2 linked regions of the Homo sapiens genome follow. The protein of the gene in region 1 interacts with the protein of each later gene in a pairwise test. Each region holds a gene or a part of one and is shown in the gene's direction. Other genes may lie near its edges.

Region 1 (3,783 bases):
TATTGATAAGAATACTATTTGACGTTTGTATCAGGATTCATGGCCTTCAAATCCTTTACATATATATAACTTCAATTTTATTTCATCTAAGAATTAATTGCTGTCAATTAAGGATAAAATAAAACTTTGACTTTATTTGGATTGTTAATGTAGCCAGGCTCTTCTATTTAAAGAATGAATGTTACAATTAAACAAATAAAGCATTTATATGCAAAGCCCCACTCTCACAAACTGATGCTGAGCTGGACATTAACAGAAAAAAGAAATTAGTTTCACGGATAAGAATGAACACTTGTGGACAATGATGCCACCATGTAGATAGGTTTTAGGGTTTTTTTTTTTCATAGAAAAACAGAGCTGCTTTCTAATGTGCCCGAATATTCAGCAGAGAGTGTGTGCATATGGTTAAAACAATACATGTTTTAGGTAAATACACATGCACCCGAAGAAGCAGCACTGTGATTTGACTAATAAATCATAATATTCATTTAATTTTTTAATGGAATTTAAAACTAGGAATAGTTTTAGAGGTTATTTAGTTCGATTCCCTCATTTTACACATACCATATGTTTCTATGGTGTTTATACTATTGAAGTTAAATATAAACATGTTCAAATCTGTGCAGAGGTAGATTATGAGAAATAAAAGCAATCATCTATTCATCAGCAAGGCACATTCACTTACAAAGTATGAATTATCTATTCATCAACAAATCATAACCATACTGATACGAATTTTAAATAAAAGCAAAACACATATTTATAAATAACCATCCTGAAACGATAACTAGAAGTTCATAGTATTTCTGAATATTTCAGTACTCACCTTATACAAGAACAACATATTCACTGCTAGGGGAAAGGGACCAATTTATTGAATGGTGCATTTATAATTTGAAGCTATAGATATTGAAGCTAGTAATTACATTAGAAATATAGAGTCTGGGGTATGTATTTTGCTAACATTTGAAAAATTACTGGGTATTCTGGAGTGATTTATCTATTTCTACTCACATTCATTTTCCAGCATGCGTTTTTTTCAAAGTAAAAAAAAAAAAAAGGTATGATCAAGGATCAGGTTTTGCAGACATAAAGATGACAGAGAAAGCTCATTTCGTCACTAGAATAATACATTTCATATCTTTAGCATTATCTCCTTATATGTAATTCGCATTGAAGTTGATAATAAATGGAATATGTGCTCAGTGAAAAATGTTTGGAAATACTGAAAAGCAGAAATAAGAAAATGACAATTAACTATAAACGTATTACACAGAAAAACAATACAAAATACATTTTTGTAATTTTTTTACTCTAGATATCCCTCCCTGCCTTTCCCCACCAAATGTATGCACACGCATATCTATATGCTAGATATCCCTCCCTGCCATTCCTCAGAACATATATATGCACACACATGTCTATACCTGTATGTTTTTCTTATGCATTCTGACTCTGCAGCTTACATGATTTGTGACTTTTGGCAAGTAACTTAATTTTTCTGTGCTTTAGCTTTTTAATCTTTACAATATGGATAGTATTAATAGCCATGTTATAGAATTGTAAAGATTAAGTGAGGTGATAAATATAAAGTTTTAGAAACATGTCTGAAATAATGTATATTATTATTAGAATTATATTTTTAAACATTTTAAATTAACAAATCTTTCTCATTTTTAATTGAAAGATTAACCCACTACTAGTATTTTGTAATATTTTCACTAAGCCATAATGAAATCTTTTCCCCTCATGATAATGGTGGTAAACGGAACATCTAAAAAATATGTTCCATGCAAAATGCATCTTCACACAGACTTATTTTGCCATTTTAGTTTGATTTTTGAAGACATGAGTTCAGCACATCTGCCAAATCCTTTTATAAGATGCTACATTCCTGTTTTTATTTTAGTTTATTTTATTTATGAAAAGTTCTTTTCTTCTCCACTCCACCCCCAGACAGTCATTCCTCTCTGTCCTAAACCATAACACTGCTGTACATTGCATTTTTAAAAATAAACCAAAACTGGGAAGAAAAACTTTTTAAAAAAGTAATTCTCCTGTTGGCCTAGCTAGATGAAAAAACAAAAAGCAAAACAAAAACAAAAGCAAAAACAAAATCTTGTATTGAAAATATACTATTTGATAATGGGCTTTTATGTTCGTTTGCCAAATGTAGAATCACAGAGTTTTTGTTGTATTTTTTTTAGTGTGGGAAGGAGGCAACTGGTTTGGGGAGGAAAAAGATGGAGTAAAACAGATGAAGAAGAATCAGTTTGCAAACATATGTTAATATTTAGATTCTTTTTTTAAAAAAGTGAAAACTTAACTAGTGAATGCTTTTCTACAAACTGTCTTTGATACTGTGTTTTGTTTATTCCATCCCAGAAGAAGTTAGCGGTATTCAGCAAGATGCAGGACTCTCTGGAAGTCACCCTTCCCAGCAAACAAGAGGAGGAGGATGAGGAGGAGGAGGAGGAGGAGAAAGACCAGCCTGCCGAGATGGAGTACCTTAACTCTCGCTGTGTCCTTTTCACTTATTTCCAGGGAGACATTGGGTCAGTAGTGGATGAACACTTCTCAAGAGCTTTGGGCCAAGCCATCACCCTCCATCCAGAATCTGCCATTTCAAAAAGCAAGATGGGGCTAACCCCCCTATGGCGAGGTAAGAATTCAAAAGCAGATGTTCTCCAGGGCACTGTCTTTGTTTCGCAACTGCCTGTACCAGGTTCCAGCTGGAGACTTGCCCCTGAGGATGGATATCCACTTGCTTTTTAATATTTAAGGACAGTGAGGAATTTCTTTCAGACAAACAGCTGGATCGGTTTTGTCACATGTGGAATGTAGGGTTGGAAAGGATGCAGTCACACCCCTTAAATTCCTCATGGAAAGTAGTGATACAACCGGCTTGAGTTTATAGTGGCTGCACTGAGCTGCGAAGTACCATTCCTAAAGCCCCAGTGGCCCAATTTGGATCTCTAAATAATAGGCGTGTCTAAATCAGCTTTTAAAAAATTAGCTCTTGCTCATTCCAATAGGTGCTATGTGGTGACATACCAGAGACCTGAGTCTGACCCAGGAATACAGACATTGAAAGCTGTCTGTGTTCTTTGAATAGGCTTCTTTATCCTGATTTGTTATTGTATTAACTCTTTATAGTATACACTCTAGGCATTTTGGCAGCATCCACATGGCTTAAACTAGTGTTTTTACCTTGATAAAGAAAGAGCAGCACATTGGACTCCTTTATTTCTCTCTGTATCGAGCTCACAGAGATGTGTTTGAAACTGATTTCTGACTCATAGAAAATTATTGGTGACATCTAAATCAGGGTAATTACAGGGTTAGATAAAAACATAATACGTCATTCCAATGACAGCTTCAGAGAAATTTGCTACAGTGGTGATTTCTTCCAAATTCACCTGGTTATAGGAATGATCTAGTAAAATGGTTCTCGAGGTGTGATTTTCCTGACCAGGAACATCAGTGCCACATGGGAGCTTGTTAGAAGTGCGAATTCTTGGGCTCCACCCCAGACCTGCAGAATCAGAAGCTCTGGGGTGGGGCAATCTGTGTTTTAACCAGCCCTCCCAGTGACTCCAGTGCAGAGTTTGATAATCATTGATCTAGTCCTGTTAAGGACAGTTTGCAGGACCCCCTTATCTCGAATCTATTGAACTAGAATCTTCATAGGAAGGTGTGGGAATCACACTTTAACAAGGGCTCTGGGTAATTCCTATCATGAGGAAAAGCTGGCTACCTGTGGGCAGGGCCAGGTGAGCAGTG
Region 2 (3,080 bases), on another chromosome or scaffold:
GACTTCACAGGAGACATTTGGTGAGGAAGATCCCCAGGGATCTGAGCCAGTAGAAGCCTGTGACCACATCAGTAAGTCAGAGGGGAGCCTGGAAAAGCTAGTGGAGCAGAGAGGCCCCAGGGCAGTCACACTGACCAACGGGGAGAGCAGCAGGGAGTCTGGGGGAAACCTCAGGTTGCTGTCAAGACCTGTTCCTGATCAGAGACCTCACAAATGTGATATATGTGAGCAAAGTTTTGAACAGAGATCATATCTCAACAACCATAAGCGTGTACACAGGTCAAAAAAAACAAATACAGTTCGTAACTCTGGGGAAATCTTCAGTGCAAACTTAGTTGTTAAAGAAGATCAGAAAATTCCTACTGGGAAAAAATTGCATTATTGCAGTTACTGTGGGAAAACATTCAGGTACAGTGCCAACCTTGTCAAGCATCAGCGGCTTCACACTGAAGAGAAGCCCTACAAATGTGATGAGTGTGGGAAAGCCTTCAGCCAGAGCTGCGAGTTCATCAATCACCGAAGGATGCACTCAGGAGAGATTCCCTACCGGTGTGACGAGTGTGGGAAGACATTCACCCGGAGGCCCAACCTCATGAAGCACCAGAGGATTCACACTGGGGAGAAACCCTACAAGTGTGGGGAGTGTGGGAAGCACTTTAGCGCCTACTCTTCCCTGATTTATCACCAGAGAATCCACACCGGAGAGAAACCCTATAAATGTAATGACTGCGGGAAAGCCTTCAGTGATGGCTCAATCCTTATCCGACATCGTCGGACTCACACCGGAGAGAAGCCATTTGAGTGCAAGGAATGTGGCAAAGGCTTTACACAAAGTTCTAACCTTATCCAACATCAGAGAATTCACACTGGAGAGAAACCCTATAAATGTAATGAATGTGAGAAAGCTTTCATTCAAAAAACCAAACTCGTGGAACATCAGAGAAGCCACACTGGAGAGAAGCCCTATGAATGCAATGACTGTGGCAAAGTTTTCAGCCAAAGCACACACCTCATCCAGCACCAGAGAATCCACACAGGAGAGAAGCCCTACAAGTGCAGCGAGTGTGGGAAGGCCTTCCACAACAGTTCCAGACTCATCCACCACCAGAGGCTGCACCACGGAGAGAAACCCTACAGATGCAGCGATTGCAAGAAAGCCTTCAGCCAGAGCACGTACTTGATTCAGCACCGGAGGATCCACACCGGGGAGAAGCCCTACAAGTGCAGCGAGTGTGGGAAGGCCTTCCGGCACAGTTCCAACATGTGTCAGCATCAGCGGATTCACCTCCGGGAGGACTTCTCCATGTAACAGTGGCGCGGTGTCCGAGGGCAGAGTCCAGCTGAGCACTTCCTGCATGCGCCCCCGGCACCTGACTCTGCCCTTTATGTATTATCCACACGATGTTTTCACAGAGTGAAAGGACGTTTCTCATTAAACAAACCTCTTTTCTTAAATCAAAAGCAGTGCATGTTCATTTTAGAGAAATTGAGACAGAAAAGTGGGCAAAAAAGAAGCTTCTGTGATCTCTCCCACTTAGAAAAAAAATTCATTGCTGCTGATTTACGAATATTTTCGAGACATACTGGAGAGCATTTTAAAAAGAAAATACCGTAATGCTTGTCATTGCAGCACCTAGGATCTTCACTTTTGCTATTTCCTCAATATCAGAAAATTCACACTGAAGAGAGCACCATATATTTTAACATTTTTACATATTGTAAATTTAAAAGCATCGGCCAGGTGTGGTGGCTCATGCCTGTAATACCAGCATTTTGAGAGGCCAAGGTGGGTGGATCACTTGAGGTCAGGAGTTTGAGACCAGCCTGGCCAACATGGTGAAACCCCGTCTCTACTAAAAATACAAAAATTAGCCAGGTGTGGTGGTGGGTGCCTGTAATCCCAGCTACTCGGGAGGCTGAGGCAGGAGCATTGCTTGAACCTGGGAGGCGGAGGTTGCAGTGAGCCAAGACTGTGCCACTGTACTCCAGCCTGGGTGACAGAGCGAGACGCTGTCTCAAAAAATAAATGAAACAAACTTAACATTCATACTTTTTATGTCAATAGAGTTGAAGTTGCCTTTAACTGTGGTGAAATAACATAATATGAAATTTACAATTTTAACCATTTTTAAGTGTACAATTCAGTGGCATTAAGTACATTCATGGTGTTGTGTAACCATCATCACTGTGTATTTCCAGAACTGTTTTATTACTCCAAACAGAAACCCTGTACCTATTAAATAATAACTCTTCATTTCCCCCTTCTCCCTACTGCTGGTAACCTCAATTCTATTTTCTGTCTCTTTGAATTTGCCTATTCTAGGAACATAAATATGTGTGGAATCATGCAATCTGTGTTTCTTTCTATGTCTGGCTTAGTTCATTCAGCATAATGTTTTCAAGGTTTCTCTGTGTTGTTTCCTGTTTCAGAACTCCATTACTTTTTTTTTTTTTGAGACCGGGTCTTACTCACCCAGGCTGGAGTGCAATGGCATGATCTTGGCTCTGCAACTTCACCCTCCCAGGTTCAAGCAACTCTTTCACCTCACCCTCTTGAGTAGCTGGGACCATAGGCGCATGCCACTGTGCCTGGCTAATTTTTGTATTTTTTGGTAGAGATGGGGTTTCACCACGTTGCTCAGGCTGGTTTCAAACTCCTGTCCTCAAGTGATCCACCCACCTTGGCCTCCCAAAGTGCTGGGATTGCAGGCATGAGCCACTGTGCCTGGCCTCTGTTACTTTTAGTTTTTTTAGATGGAGTCTAACTCTGTCGCCAGGCTGGAGTGCAGTGGTGCGATCTCAGCTCACTGCAACCTCCACCTTCCGGGTTCAAGCGATTCTCCTGCCTGAGCCTCCCGAGTAGCTGGGACTACAGGCACGCAGTACCACACCCAGCTAATTTTTTATTTTTAGTAGAGACGGGGTTTCACCATGTTGGCCAGGATGGTCTTGATCTCTTGACCTTGTGATCCACCCGCCTCAGTCTTCCAAAGTGCTGGGATGATAGGCGTGAGCCACTGCGCCCGGCTTCCATTACTTTTTATAACCAAGTAATATTATGTCGTATGTATGTAGCACAT

What was found.
Region 2: the proteins of VGLL3 (region 1) and ZNF34 interact in a two-hybrid assay, tested with the Homo sapiens proteins (one large-scale study listed by BioGRID).

Annotation. Positions count from the first base shown.
Region 1 is NC_000003.12:86,977,405-86,981,187, reverse strand, and holds part of VGLL3 (transcription cofactor vestigial-like protein 3), read left to right. Parts: intron 1-2,385; coding exon 2,386-2,662; intron 2,663-3,783. UniProt on the Homo sapiens protein: May act as a specific coactivator for the mammalian TEFs.
Region 2 is NC_000008.11:144,771,495-144,774,574, reverse strand, and holds the end of ZNF34 (zinc finger protein 34), read left to right. Parts: coding exon 1-1,309; 3' UTR 1,310-2,351; downstream 2,352-3,080. UniProt on the Homo sapiens protein: May be involved in transcriptional regulation.